Regions from separate parts of the Homo sapiens genome. Here region 2 is linked to region 1. Evidence: fine-mapped expression QTL. Tissue or cell type: lung. Region 1 holds a variant in brackets; the other region holds the start of a gene. All regions are shown on one strand. Distances are from middle to middle.

Region 1 (8,000 bases):
AAGTGGTCTGTTTTAGACTCCTATAGCAGTCTCTTCACTGTTTTTCTAGAATTTACTTGCTAGCCAATCCTAAAACTGAAGCCACATATTCTAGTTTTTTGTTACTGCAGCATTCTACTTCTGGTATCAATAACTATTTCAGTCAGACTTCAATCAGGAAAGCAAAGTCTTTATGAGTAATGTGAGATAATGAATATTTATGGGTATTAGAACTCGTAATTATAGAAGGAGCTGGGCAAGTAAAAGTTGGAAATGGGGATTTAAAGGATTAGAGAAAAGGTCACCAAGCAGTTCTCTTAAAGCCCTGGCATGGGTGGAAATATTGGCATCTGCAAGGGAATCTGATAAGTCAATTCTACCTAAGGGGCCAAAGTGCAACAATGAAGGGGAGGCTCATGGAAAAGGGTCTCTGAGAAGCTGTTGGCTGTAAGCAGCTACCACCTCTGTGGTTTCACCTGAAAGTATCTGATGATAGGCATGGGCCACTGTTGGTCATCAGAGCCAGTAGTTATAAAGAGCCGGGTGCAGAGTAGAGGAACGTGAGAGCAAGTGAGGATGTGTTGGACACATCTACACATTTCTTTCTCTGTATGTGATTACAAAACAGCCTTCAGTGAGTAATGACTATTGCCTTTCAAACTTGCACAAATTCCTCTTTTGGCCAACTCTAATCTAGAACTATACAGGGAAAGAAAGTCTGGGGAACGTAGCTCCCAGATTAACTAAACTGGCAACAGGGTAATCCAGCATACTCCCTAAATGTCTGCCTAAATTAAGTCTGCAATGCTCCTCAAGGGCCCTGAGCAGATTTCAGAAAGGCTCCAGGAGATAGCTCGGGAACATTGACAAACAAAGTCATGAGGCATTTGGGTTATAAGACAGCCTTTGTTTATTTGCCTAATGTCTTGAGGAGCACTGGCTAGGGAATCAGGATGCTGCAATTGTGGACCTGGATCCACCACTCACTAGATTCATTTATCATGAGATTCATTCACCACTCACTAGATTCACCAGTCACCTTGCCCAATTTGTTCAAATTATCTGGGCTTCAATTTCCTCATCTATAAAAGGAGAGCAATCCCCCCTGGGCTGCTTTCTCTATACATTGCTTTGAGGAGCCAGTTGGTAGCTGTCAATGCATTTGTTTAGCTGATGTAATGAATTTATGGACATGCAGAGAGCAGCCATACATAGCGAGAGTAGCTGTCCTTCCCTAGAGTAGCTGTTCTTCCATAGAGTAGCTGTCTTCCCATAGAGTAGCTGTTCTTCCATAGAGTAGCTGTCCTTCCACAGAAATTTGGCCAATCCCAGCTGCCCTGCCATAGTTTTGCCTAGCAGGTTTGTGCTGTTTCTGCTGAGGTAGAAAACTCATAGAAACCAAAGCCTCTTGGCTTCTCCTTATCAGATGTGCCTTCCCAGCTCTCTGTCCTTAACAGAGCCCCTTTCTGACGCCAGGTAATGGGTAGTGGGGAGGAGCAGCTGAGATTTGAATACCCCAGGCCTTCACTATTTCCTCTCCCTACATACTCTACCCACCCCCTACCCTCCATCTATGATTTCTACCTGCCTACATTCTATTCACGTTTCAGTCTCCAGCTCAAAGATTATTCTCTTCTTCCTAAATGTTTTCTGATTTCCCTCAGCTGGATTCAATCTTTTCCATTCCTTAAACCCCCAGGGCAGCCCATCTTTGATTGCATTTACGATACCCTGAGAATACCCCAACACATATACCTTTGAGTACTTATCTTATTCTTCTACCAAGTGTCACATTCCTAGAGGCAGGGAACTTGCTTATTGAGCTCGTATAACAAATAAATAATTTTTGGCACCCTTCACATTAAAGTGTAGACAGAACTTAGTACACACATATTTGGTGAATTGAGTTGAAAGAAAACAAATTGAGGACATACAGCCACATGTTGGTGTCCTAAATAACAATAGTCTCTAAGGACATAGTCGCCCACAAGAAGAAATAGAAAAATGAAGAGTTTATTATTCGCAGCCACATGGGTCTCCATTATTATGAATGTTTTGTCTTCACTTGATAAGGTCCCTCCATCATGTTGATATGATGACCTCTGAGAGGGGACAGTCCAAATAGAAGCTAGGTCTCAATCTGCCTATACTCAGAGGTAAATGATCTTTATAGAACTCCATATTCCACAGCACAGGATGCAAATATTAACCGGGACCAGTGACCCCTCTGTTTAGGTTATGACTGGAGCTGTCACTGAGCCACATCCTCTCTAAGAGACAGTCCATGCACCCAAGATAAGGTTTCAAGAGGCCTTTGAGCCAGGAAAATTGTTTGGCCAAGTGTCTGTGTCTTTAGTCATGTACTCTCTGGGTTGGTGGGTTCTTTTCTCTCATCTCAGAATAGTTCCCAAAGCAAAACTGATATCAGAAAATGTTCATGTTATCTCTCCAGCCTTGAGCAAGTCACTTCCCCTCTCTTGACCTCTGTTTCCTATAGAAGGAGGCAGATAGAAATAGCTCTTAAAGGTCCCGCCCAGCTCTGATATTCCAGGACTCTATTCTGAGCTGCAGGCTGAATTCCCAGGGCCCCAGGCTACTGGCCTTCTCTTCTCTGCTTCTAAAAGGATGTATGGCTCAAATTTTCCCATGGGCCTCAGCTGGGGCATGCTTCCTGTTCTCTGGAATACTGTGGCTCTGCAGGTGATAACCATTTATCTGATTTATCTGCCATTATGAAAAGGTCCTTCAGCCCAGACGTTACAAGGAGGGAGGTCATTTATCACAGACCCTCAGTAGTATCTCCCTAATCCAAATGACCAGTGTGTTCACTTGAAAATGTTCATGTCCCAGTCACTGCAGAACCCAAGAGGCACTGGGGATACCAAGTTCCAGAAAGAAGCCTGTGTAGCTGGAACTATTAATGCCCAAGGCATGACTATTCATTATTAACAAATTCAAGTTCATCCGCAAGCAGTAATCCTGCATATGTTAAAACTCCTGCTTACCATCTTCTGGTTGGTTTATATAATATATGACTATGATGATTTGTTAGAACTGTGTTAGACTATGATGACTGCTATGTCTGGAATTGGAAAGGAATCTAGAGCTCAGCTAGTCCAAACCCCTGTTTTTACAAGTGGATAACTGAGAGCTAGAAAGGAGATGGCCCAAAATGCAGAATACGGCAGTGTCAGGAACAGGACCCAGGACCTCCAACTGCCAGGTTCCTGTATATCGTATTACTCCAAAGCAGAGGTCACCAAGATGGTGTACTCTAGTTCATGCAGTTACTCACAGAAGAATCCCTTTCCCAGGCCCTCATTCTAAATCTATTTAGCTTTTTTTTATTAAGTTCTAGCAAAAGCAGTTAACTGGTTTCTAATTCACAACATATTAAAAATAAGCAGACAGAAAAGTACAGTGAATAGGCTGATAAAAAGACAGGAAATAAAACATGACATAAAGAAGACTTCAGAAGTTCAAGGCTTTATAGTCCGGCAATGTTTAACGCCAGGTCAAGCGACATTACACAACTCAATATCCCCAAGATTATCACTTTAATATAGTATCACAATGGTTGACATTCATAACAATGTCCCTGGATCACCAAGAAAGGGTTAGCATGTTTCACTTGAGAAAGTGGGTACTTCTTTAAAGTACTTTTTTTTTTTTAAGTGTTACACCAAAAAGAAAATTTTTAGTTATAGTTAGGTAAAGCTTTGGCTAT[C/T]TGGAAAACTGAGTCAGATAAAATAACACAGCAGCTGGGAGGTTCAAGGAAGTGACATTTCAGCTGTGTGCAGATAGGCACATTCTATAGTAACAAGACTGGTGTGAGTTCGGCTGGTATCTGCAGAGAAGAGGAATAAATAGCAAAGCCATGATCTCATCTTCTGTTTACACTTCAATTCCCAAAGTTAGTGATTAATTGTACTTGCGTTTTGTTGCCAGGGCAAATTGTTTTTCTTTGAAACTCCCACTTATTTTAAATAAATAAACCATTAGTTTCAAAACAGGAGTGTCAAATGTCAAGATATTTCTGACATGCTAAGCTAACGAACAAAACAATGAATTCATTAGAAGCTACTAGAGATAGCCGCCTTTGAGAACTTTTCTCTAATGACTTTGAAAGGCAGCAGGAATCATTCTTGGTAAGAGATTTTTTTCATGCATCTTGGCTAAAATTTGGTCCAGAGGTTGCAAACACAAATACAACTTAAAAGAATTGGATTAGGTATAAGATAATCGAATAGATACGTCAAGAATTTATACTCAAATAAATATACCAACTAGCTATCATACGAAGCTTCCCAAACTCCTGTCTCACATAAAATCAGCTTTAAGCCACCAGTTTAGGATCTCTGCTTGGATCTCTGAATTCGCACAGGGCCTCTGGCTCTTCCAAAGAAGGGAATTCTTTTAGCAAACAGGCATGTTTTTTGCATCTAAGTCTTAACACAAACATGTACACACAGAGATACACACTCAAACTATTTTTGGGTGATTCCAATAAATAGTTTCTGTATTAAGACTGCCTATTAAACATTAGTTTTCATTACATGACTTTCCTGCTTAAAAGTTTTCAGTGTCTTCCACTTACTCACAGAATTAATGGCATTCAAGGTCAACCATAATTTTCTTTCCATGTATCCTTCCAAGTACATCTCCTCCTACAATCCCCACAGACTCCCTGGCTACTCACTGTTCACAGAATGGGGCTTGTACTTTCAGTTCTTGTAAACAAATGTTTATTGGATAACTATTATGTGCCAGGTCCTGTTCCATGCACTGAAGACACATCTATAAAGAAAATAAAGTCCTTCTCTCCTGTAGCTTATATTCTAATGTGGATTGTTTGCCTGCTTTGAGTGCATATGCAGTGCTTCTGCTTGTGTGAAAGCATTTGTCACACTGTGTAATACCTGCCTGTGTCTGTGTTCCTCAATCTCAACACTGCTATTGTGTGCACAGCACTGTGTCTATCTCTCATCACCTCCATCTCATGCTTTGCTCGGCAGTAGGCACACACTGGATACTCAATGAATGACTTATATTGTGTATACAGTTTCCATTCTTTGGAAATGTGGTAAGTTCCTGTTGTGCAGAGAATCTGTCTGCGAGGTTATCTAACTTTTTAAAACTTTCATATTGAGTTATTTTTAATAAATAAGCTGCTTGGTTATTGACAGCAACAACAAATATCAAGCTACTTCTAATGGAACTAAATAAGACGAATGAAACTGATCAGATGTCCACATTGAATTAACTTGTAATGCGTCTTTTCTCAAGAATCCTTAACCTCCTTTCTTTGGGTTTCTCAGGCTGACTAGCCTACTCTTGGGTGGCCCCTTCCTTTTTCTTTCTAAAGATAAGGAAAGAAGCCTAGCTGGGAAACTGCTCATCTTGTTCCCTTTCTCTTTGACCTCAAAGGTAGAAACTGAGGACCAGGTGCTGGCAACCTTCTGTGGCAGGGAGACCACAGACACAGAGCAGACTCCCGGCCAGGAGGTGGTCCTCTCCCCTGGCTCCTTCATGTCCATCACTTTCCGGTCAGATTTCTCCAATGAGGAGCGTTTCACAGGCTTTGATGCCCACTACATGGCTGTGGGTAAGTTGGAGAAGTGACTCATCCTCAGGTCTCTCTCTCTCTCTCCGAAGATGAAAACTGCCTTGTGACCTCTCCTTTACGATGGAAATCTGTGTGTGCACCACATAGATTTTACCATTAATGTCTTAATGCATTTGCTCTATCACGTATCTATCCATCTATCTACCCTCTATCCATCCAGCAATTCATCTTTTACAAAGTGTTTTAACGTAAATTGCAGACATCAGTATACTTCTTCCTAAATAATTCAGCATGCATATTATTTTGCTAGAGTTTCATATTTGTTCACAGCATTTTTTCTTTTTGTGTAAAATTGACATAAAATGGAATATACATATCTCATGTATACATTTGTTGAATTTTGAAAAATCTGTATTTGTGTGTAACCCAAACCTCTAACAAGACACTGAACTTTACCACCAGCCCAGGGGGTTCCTTTGTGTCCCTGCCAGTCAATCTCTGCTCCCACTTCCCTTAGAGGAAACAACTGTTTTGATTTTTTTTCTGCTGTAGATTAGTTCTTGCCTCTTCTAAAACTTCATTTAAATGAAAACATACAGAATACATTTTGGGGGTGAGGATTCTTTTACTCAGCATAATGTTTTTGAAGTTAATTCATGTGTCGCATGCATCAGTAATTTGCTCCTTTTCCTGGCAGAGTAATTTTCCATTGTATGAATATACTAAAGTATGTTTACTCATTCTCTTATTGACGGCTACTTGGAATCTCCCCATTTTTTAGCTCTCACTAACAAAGTTTTTATGAACCTTCTTGTGCAAGTCTTCTTGCAAACATATGTTTTCAATTCTATTGAGTAAATATGTAAGAGAAGAATTGCTGAGTCATAGGATAGGTATACGTTTAGCTTTATGAGACATTGCCAGACCTTTTCCAAAGCAAATGTAACATTTTTTATCTGTCCACCAATGTATGAGAGTTCTGGCTGCTCCACATCTAAACCAACATTAGATGTTGTCAATTTTTAAAAATTTTAATCACTCTGGTGAGTATGTAGTGGTACCTCATTGTGGTTTAAACTGCATTCCCTTAATGACTAGCAATGTTGAACATCTTTTCATGTGCTTGTTGGCCATTGGTTTATCCCTTTTGGGGAAATGTACATTCAAATGCCTAGGACAGGGCTTGACCCACATTAGGGGCAGAAAGAAAGAAAGAGGTAGCATGAGGTAGAAGTTAAGAGCACAAGCTCTGTACCCAGCTTGTCTGTATTTAAATCCTGGGTCTGCCACTTATTATCTGTGTGATTCTAAGTTTGTTAATGCCTCTATGTCGCCATTTCATCCTCCATAGAATGTGACTAGTAACAGAATGCATAGTAACAAATGTGTAATTCTTCCTGAGGTTGTTGTCCCACACACAGTTATTATTATAACTGTTAGAGGATAGTGGTCCCACCAGAAGTCAAGTTACCTGGGTTTGAACTTGGCTTTTTGTGACCTTGGGTAAGTTGCCTAACCTCTCTGAGTTCCAGTTTCCTAGTCTGTAAAGTGAAGATAATGGCTACCTCTGGGCTGTATGAGAGGATTAAATGAGAGAACGCATGAATCTCCTAACATAGTGAGTGGCCCATATCAAGTGCTCTATAAATGTTGGCTGTAGTCTTCATCATCATGCATGTATTGATGGAGAGGCTTTACCTGCCCTACAGATGTGGACGAGTGCAAGGAGAGGGAGGACGAGGAGCTGTCCTGTGACCACTACTGCCACAACTACATTGGCGGCTACTACTGCTCCTGCCGCTTCGGCTACATCCTCCACACAGACAACAGGACCTGCCGAGGTAGAGCCTACCAATGATTGTATGCATTGCCCTTATAGGCCACATCCTCAATAACATTAGATGAGGCTCAGAGAAAGACAGATATGCAATAGGAACAAGTAAAAATGAAGTCAATGATGCACCTCAGACACCACATGGATGAAGATGCAGAAATGCCCACCCAGCCTGGAAACCTGATCTTGGGTTCCCAAAGGAGAGAAGCTCTAGACTATTTGGCCATCTTTCTTTCTGGGGCAGCATTTTTCACTATACAGGTTGCTGTCTCCTATCCTATTGTAGGCAATTGGTCTGGTCAAGTTAGGGGAAAACTTGGGTTTCCCAGTTCCTTCTCTTTGAGCCACGAATTATGCTTTACCCAGCAACTCCTTTTCTCTTCTTTTCCATGGCCCCTAAGTTCCTCTACAATAGAGAGACCTCAGTCCAAAGCAAAGAAGTGAGAGAGGAAAGAGGCAAACAGAAACAGCCAGAAAACTTCCCATTCCTTCTATCTATCTTTGTTTTCATCTATCATCAACGTACCTACTATGCTATAGTCTCGTGCTTAGGGAGGGATGGAGAAATGGAAGGGTTTAGCCACTTTCTAGGAGGAGCTCTTGGGCTAGTGGGGTAATGGG
Region 2 (8,000 bases), 27 kb before region 1:
GGCAGGCTTAGTTTCTCTGAACCTCAATGTCTTTACTTGTAAAAAAAGATGTGAATACTATATGCAATAATATATATAAAAGTATCTGGCATATACAAATGACATCTTATCAAATCAAAGGTGCCATCAATTATAAAATGTATCATTATGTTATTTGTACCAAAAGTGGCAAAATCATGCCAGGGGAGATTTTCAAATTACAGATTCAGGAGACTTACCCACAGATTCATTGGGTTTGAATCTCCTGGGATGAAGCTCAAAGATTGTCATTTTTTAAAAATATTTTCCCCATTATTCTGTTGATAGACTCAGAAGCCAGGACTTTCGGCATGCTGTCAGTCAATGTGCTGAAGAACCCAGATTTTCATTCTAAGCTGCCATCTTTGGAGCTATTTATCAGTTTCTCAAATATTCTGTAGGAAGCCTGGATTTCAGCCCTTACCAACAAAAAGTCATTGCCCAAATTCTTTACGTTTTCTAACCCATTCATTGAATTCCAGAAGCTCTAGCTCAAAAGTTGCATAAAATAAATACTTTGGTAGAACATGTAAACCAAAACCTCTTCCAGTGGTAGGAATATTGCCGCATTTACCCTTAGTAGGCAGCTCTCTGATCCCTTTCCCGGACTACAGGACTATAGTGCGCGGGTGCTGAGCCCACCTCAGTCATTCTACGCTTTCATGATTCTAAATGATGTCAGTTCCTTGTATGCATTTTTTAATCGCTTTTGCCAAACTCAAAAAACTAGTTGAACCTTTTTAAATATTACTTTTTCTGAATATCTGTGATTAAATTCTTAGTATCAGTAATATTATGAGCACAGAAAAAGCCAATGTCAAGATTATTAGAGCTATTTTGGACTCCTTGACAATCTTTTAGGTCTAGCAAACTACCTAACCCCCTCCCAACGACATCATTTCATAGTCTTCATATCCACATGTTGATATCTATGATCTCAACTGAGTCCCACCCCCTGATTTCATAATTGAACACACTGATGCCCCACCCCTCCACCCCTCAACCCCCACCCCTGAGAAAGTAAGTGACTTACCCAAGGTCACATGCAAGCTGGCCTATAGTCACTGAGCCCAGTTCTGTTTCCAGCCTAATGTCCCTTCCATTCCTCCCACCCCTGATGACCCATGATCTCTTAGTGACACTTCAGGGAGATTCATCAAAAGCATCAGACAATATGTAGTGTAACCAAGTAGAAAACTGTCCTGAATCACATGCAGATCATTCCTGGGCCACGTAGTTCCTGTTTTTATGCAGATTTCCTCTGAGCCTTGGCTAACTCCCAGGGAAGCGCACATATCAGATCTGCTATATATTGGCAGAACTTTGGCTTAGAACACATCTCGAATGCTTTCCATTGAACATTGGCAGCCTTGAAGAAACATGGCTAGAAAATTATTCCAGGAGGCCTAATTGCTCTGTGACACTTTCCAAGGAGAAGCTGATGGCTTTCTCGCCCAAGCTCTTCCCTCTGTACCCAGAACAAATGACTGCAGTTCCCAGTATATGCCCTAAATTAGGAGAGGGCAAACTCCGTGGCAGCATGAATTGAGGGAATGTCTTTACTGGGCAGGGGCCCTCTTCCCAGCACAGTGTGCATTTTGCCAAGCTCTTTCTCCTTCAGTTTTAAAACCCTTGTGTATTCCAAGAGAAATGTCGTCCATGTGTTTCTGATTCATTTACACGTAAATCATTAAAATGTTGTTTTGTGAGAGTTATTTAATGTGTGCGGAGCCTGTGAGTCTTCTTAACGGGAATGTTAAAAGCTTTTTTTCCTGTGCTGACTGAGACAGAACACATTTTGCTAAAACAGTGCCTGAGTTCAAACATATCCTCCCATCTCATATACTTGTACCTGCTTTATCAACCACAGCCTCTTGATAATGCCAAGCTTGGCAAGGCTGGCATTCAAAAGTGTGAAAATTAGAGAAACTGGAGAGAAAATGGAGTAAGAAGTACAGTGAGAGTCAAGCCACTGTTCCCCAGAACGTGCCAAAGGAACGTTATCTGAGGGTAGACAGTGCATGTGTCTGCCGCTTTGGTGAGTGTGGCTGGCAGCCCTCTCTCTGGTACTCCCCTGGACACTTCTACAAGCACAGTCTTATTTAAGCCTCATAGTAACTCCCATTTTCCAAATGAAGACACAGAATCAGATACCTTAAGTATTGTGCCCAAAGTACACAGCTGTCTTGGGTAGAAAGGAAAGATTACAGCTAAACTCTGAGTCTAATCTTCTTTTCAAAATGACTCAGATTGAGTTTCTCTATGAATGCCGTCTGTGTGTGTGCATTTGAAATTCCATATGCATTATAAAATGTTAATGAGTAGCAGTGTAATACAGTGGCTAACACTTCAAATTCTGCCTCTATTACTTTCTAGCTGTGTGAACTTGGGAAAGTTACTTAACCTCTCTGGGCAATTTCCTCTGAAAAATGAGAATATTGCCAGCCATGTATACAACATATAAAGATGACTGAAAAGAATTCATATATTAAGTGCTTAGAGCAGTGCCTGACACGTAGCACTCAATAGCTGTTAGCTTCTAGTGCTAGTGGCAGTGGGGAGTCATAAATAACTGGATGATCTTGGCAAGTGGCATATTCTCTCTGAGCCTTAGTGTCCTCACTTGTAAAATGAGTATAACAGCAGCACTTTCACCAGTTTGCAAAAGTAACTTGAGATGATGTTAATGACTAGTACTGTGTCTAACACAGAAAAGGTGCACAGTCAAACTTAACTTTTACACCCAGATACACCTCTCCCTATTCAGTGTTGGTTGTTGTTGTTGTGGAGGGGGTAATTTTCTTATTATTCAGCTCATCTTAGATCTAGTGTTGATTTCTCCGGAAGCCATGGGTATAGACATATATACAGGCCCAGGTCTTTCTACACCCCTGGGGAGGTGAGATTTCTTGCTGCGATGGGCCCTTTCTGGGCTGGAGTAGAGCCGCACACACTCCGAGCAAGTAAACAGTGCCACAGGTATTGCTCATGGGGAGGAACAACCAGCCAACTTCAGGACTTGGTGCTTCCCCAGTTCCGGGCCCGTGGCTCTGTTCACAGGAAAACCTGTCGTTGTGTGTGACTCTGATCACGAGAAAACCTGTAGTTATTTGGGGCTCTGCTCACAAGGAAACCTGTAGTTATTTGCAGACAGACGCTCTGGGATTTAGACCTTTTTTTTTTCTTCTAGTGTAGGTGCTAGAATTGCCTTCTTAGTTGGTTGTTTCTATTTAATTGCTTTTCTTTCATGGGTGTCCTGAAGAAAAGCAGAAAATTATAGTCATCTGGCAAAAAAGACTAAAGAGAAATTAGACTTTGTCCCCTTTCACTCTCTCTCTCTCTCTCTCTCTACACACACACACACACACACACACACACACACAGAGTGATACAAATACCTGCTTGAGCCCCTCAGTTATTTTCTCTCAAGGGCTGAAGTCAGCCACACAGGATAAAGGAGGGAAGGGAAGGAGCAGATCTTTTCGGTAGGAAGACAGATTTTGTTGTCAGGTTCCTGGGAGTGCAAGAGCAAGTCAAAGGAGAGAGAGAGGAGAGAGGAAAAGCCAGAGGGAGAGAGGGGGAGAGGGGATCTGTTGCAGGCAGGGGAAGGCGTGACCTGAATGGAGAATGCCAGCCAATTCCAGAGACACACAGGGACCTCAGAACAAAGATAAGGCATCACGGACACCACACCGGGCACGAGCTCACAGGCAAGTCAAGCTGGGAGGACCAAGGCCGGGCAGCCGGGAGCACCCAAGGCAGGAAAATGAGGTACGTGCCAGGGGAGGAGAGGGCACGGTTCCCTTTTGGGGACCAGTGTCAAATAGCAGGGAAGGTCTGACCTTGTCACTGACAGACTCACCTGCGTGTCCTGCATGTGGTAGTGAGGGGCTTTCTCATCAATTCTTAGGGCTCTGAGAAGGGAGCTGTGGGTGGGCTGGGTGCCTTCCCCAGGACTCCAGGAGACATAAAACTTGAAACGGGAGACTTCGTGCAAATCCTGCTCCGGACGCTGCTGAAGCTCAGATTTCTCCCACTGCCTGCACAGGGTGCTGCCTGCTGGCGAATGTGACTCTCCTCCTGTTCACCCACAAGGCTGATTTTTCCGTGTTCCTCCTCTGGAAAGAGCATTGCTTTCTCTCTTCCAGCACTTTGTGAGTTAGATATGTGTTTGTGTGTTCATTCCTTCTGACCAGAAAAGAAACCAGCTTCCCATAGCTTGGCTCTGTGGTTTCTTCAACCTTTACAAGTTTGCCAGTTAAACCTCAATTTAGAAAACTAAAAATCTGTCCCCATTTTACAGTTCCCTATAAATTTTCTGCATTTCTCATTGAAATCAGAGGCAGCTGGTGGCATGAATCAGGCTATGAAGTACACCAAATGGCTCTTAAAGAGATATCATACTTAAAAAAAAAAAAAGGATTTTAGAGTTCTGAAATCAAGAACTTCAAATTCTAATTGGTTTTAAACTCTTTAACCTTTCTTATTCCTCATTATACTTGACACTCCTTACCAGACCTTTCATACAAGTTCTATCCTGCAAGTCTGAAAACCCAACCACCCTAGTTATTTTTATTAGTTAAGTGTTAATGCTGTTACACACACACACACACACACACACACACACAATGCTCTGCAGATGTGTAAGTCCCTAAACACATCTTTTACTATTAATTTTCTTTTCACTTGGGAAAGTGTTTTTATTTGTTTCTCTTCTGCAAAGTAACCTAGCAACTTTTCTGGACCTGAGACCAATGAGAGGCTTCAGACTATGTTAACTCTTTGAACTCCGATTACCTGTGGTTCAGAGAGATAACCAGGTCCTTAAAAAGTGAGTGCAATAATTCTGTTCTTCTTAAAGCCATAGTAATTTTAAACCTGCCATTAAACATCATTTTTCTTTCTCCAAAAAAAAGTGATTTATGTCAATCTACATTGAATGATAATCTCATTTATCTGTCAATGATCTGGTCTGAATCCCACCCTACCATTCAGTGCCCCAGCCCATATCAAACTACTTGGCTGAGTAACAATTCTGTATCTTTGCATATGCTCATCCCTCAACCTGGAGCAACCTTCTTCTTTATTTTCCACCTAGAAGACCTGATTGTTCAAGCTGGCACAAATATCTCTTTCTCTCTCCTGACCACCATATTCCAGAGTGAGCATCCCCTCCTTTGTCCTTTGTTCTGTTTCTGTCCCTTGAAGCTGCATCTCTTATTGTCCTTGTAGTATCCCCTTGTTTAAATGTCCACCTCCCCTTACAAGTCTCAGCACTCCTTAAGTTACATGATCTATGTCTTCATCTTTGTATGGCCAGCACCTAGCATAATGTCTATTTCCTACCAGCCATTCAATACCTATTTGTTGAATTGAATTCAATTTTTGAATAGCCAAGCAACTACGAGAAAGGTGCTCTGCTAGAAAAGTCTCCAGCAGGTCTTGTCTCACATGGATACAGTATTTCAGTGTTTGCAGAGCACTTTCAAGAGCACTGTCTCATGGGGGTTTCAGATTCTGGATGAAGTAAGGATTTATGGATAAGTAGTGGGTATAAAAGCAGTTAAGCAACTTGCCCAAACCACACTGATGATCATGAAAAGGTCCAGATTCAAATTTGGGTCTTCGGGCTCCAAGTTCAGGATTTTTTCTACTATATTCCACTAGACTTTCAGCCAAGTGTATTATTCTAAACTGACGGCTCATAATTCTGACTGTACGTCGGAATGATCTGTGCTGCCTTGAAACATGCCAGTGCTCAGGCCTCACCCCAGAGCAATTAAACCAGAACCTCCTGAGGAGGGACTTTGGCATTAATATTTTTAAATTTTTTACGTAAAGCCATGGGTTTTTCAATTATTTTTCACAGGATTAATTGCTTTGGCCAGATGCCTGGGCATGATATGGGCATGGACCCAGCTTCTTCTGTGAGCTCTTTTTATTCCCTTCTTCTGTTGAAGTTAATTCACCATATGGTATTGAGCATGATGTGACATCTCTTGGGGTATCCTTTTCATCGTCTGTCAAATTAGGGTGCTCTGTAAAGGATCCATGCAGTCCCTTCCAACTCTTCAATTCAAAAATGGAGTCTTGGTGTGGAGTGGGTTGAAACAAGGGGCGTGTACGGACAGTGTATGGAAAAGATAGCAAGTGCCGTTCATGCCGCAATCATAGATATATGCAGGCATTTTTACAGAGTCCTGCTAGCCTGTTCCTACGGGGGGCCTCTGAAATCTCAGCTCTATATATTACTTTTGACATTTCTGCAATGTAGCTAAACTTTTTGATTAGCCGGAGGATAGATAGCAGGTGTTGGGAACTATACAGCCGGTGCCTCGTATACAAGAAGCCAAAAACATTCAGAGAGTGTGACGAGGAATGAAAGCTGCCACTTATATTCTTCAATTTACAGCCCCTAACGCAAGCAGGCAAGCATATGCTCAAGCCCATTACATGAAGGGAGATATTTGTTTCATATGTTTGAAACCGTTTTGAGATGCAAACAAAGTAGAAGGGAAAGCTTCCTGGGCCTTCCTCCCACGCTGACCAGTTGCCTACCACACATGGCACCGGGCTTCTGGGCTACACAGGGCTGTCTGCTGCCAGTCCTTGACAGAACCGGCCTCAGGAGGCTCAGTGTCTCCTCGATGTGGTCTGGAAAAAGCAGTCATGGAGGAAGTTGACCTTTCGGCCTTGCATAATTTGGGTGTCGCTATTATAGGGAAGTCCGGTTTAGGAGCCAAAGCTCATTCCTGACTCTTGCTTTTTGGGAACTGGCAGGATGGAATAATTATAACTAATGTTTGGCTAGGGCTGGACAGTTAACAAAATACTTCCCCATCCTCCTTTACGCTGATAGCAGTGCTGTGGGAAGTCGTTATTATTACTACTTAATGGATGAGGAAACAAGACCTCCCATGACCTCCTAAAATGGAAAGGATAAATAAAGTCAAAGCTGGAGCTGAATCTAGCTCTTTTGACCCAGGGCCAGTGCCCTCCCCTCCTCAGCAGGGCTGAACCTGAACTCCCAGCCCTGTTAACACTGGTTCATTTCCTCACTTGAAAATGGGATGCCTGGGCCCTGCCACCTGGTTTTTTGACTCAGCTTTCCAACTAATTCACAGGTTAACTTGGACATATGCCTTCCCTTCCTTCTGCCTCTGAGGCCCTCCTTCCACAGATTGGTTTAAGAAAATATTGACATTGGCTATGGGATTAAGACATTTTGTTTTCTTAATAGAATCTCACATATTGCTATTGTAGGGACCTTGAAAAAAATTAAATAAATGTATTTTCTTTTTATTGAAAAAATAGTACATGGTCCTTCTTGACAAATGTAAACATTTTATATGCACAAAAATGGAAATACTTATATTCCCATTTCAGAGATAACTACTGTCAATACCTTGGTGTATATCCTTTCAGACATTTTGTACTTACCTATTTACACTTTATGTAAATATTAACATGACATAGCTACATAATCTATGTATGTAGTTAACTTGCTCTGTTTACATACCCAAAAACTCAAATGTATGCATTACACAGATATATGCATCTGAATACATGGGCAGACTGGGTATTGGAGAGAAACAACGTCCTGATTAGCAAATATATCATTGTTAATCTGAAGATGCTGGTATGGTTTCCCAGCATTGACTTTTTAGGCTATCTAAGACTCAGGCCCCACTTTCATGGATTCATTCATTTATAATCTGTTATATATCAGACTCTGTACTGGGACCTTTATATACATCACCTTTAGTGCTCATAGGAGCCTTATGAATTAGATATTATAATCTCCATTTTACTTCTGAGGAAACTGGGGCTCAGGGAGACTAGTTGCCCAAGTTTTCACAGTCAGTAAGTGAAAGAATTGGGACTTAAATCCAAGTACATTTCACTCCAAAGGGTGTGTCTAACGTAGTGCAATGTGATACCCACAATAATAGAGAAATGTGCAGGGAGCAGTGGCTTGTGGA

Evidence for each region. PIP is the estimated chance that this variant, and not a neighbour inherited with it, causes the effect.
Region 2: it holds the start of MASP1, and the variant in region 1 is fine-mapped to the expression of MASP1 in lung (TOPMed, PIP above 0.99). The same link has a PIP of 0.9 or more in skin, sun-exposed skin and thyroid.

Annotation. Positions count from the first base shown.
Region 1 is chr3:187,260,127-187,268,126 of GRCh38, reverse strand. It overlaps MASP1 (MBL associated serine protease 1), which reads left to right. Exons shown (of 11, transcript NM_139125.4): 3 at 5,407-5,584; 4 at 7,255-7,386. Among named protein-coding and RNA genes, the nearest start is that of MASP1, 28 kb to the left of the region's middle. The variant C/T (reference allele first, on the strand shown) is at 3,707.
Region 2 is chr3:187,287,417-187,295,416 of GRCh38, reverse strand. It overlaps MASP1 (MBL associated serine protease 1), which reads left to right and starts at 3,680. Exons shown (of 11, transcript NM_139125.4): 1 at 3,680-3,789. The coding sequence starts at 3,785. LOC101929130 (a long non-coding RNA gene) reads right to left here and starts at 4,145. Exons shown (of 2, transcript NR_135551.1): 1 at 3,881-4,145.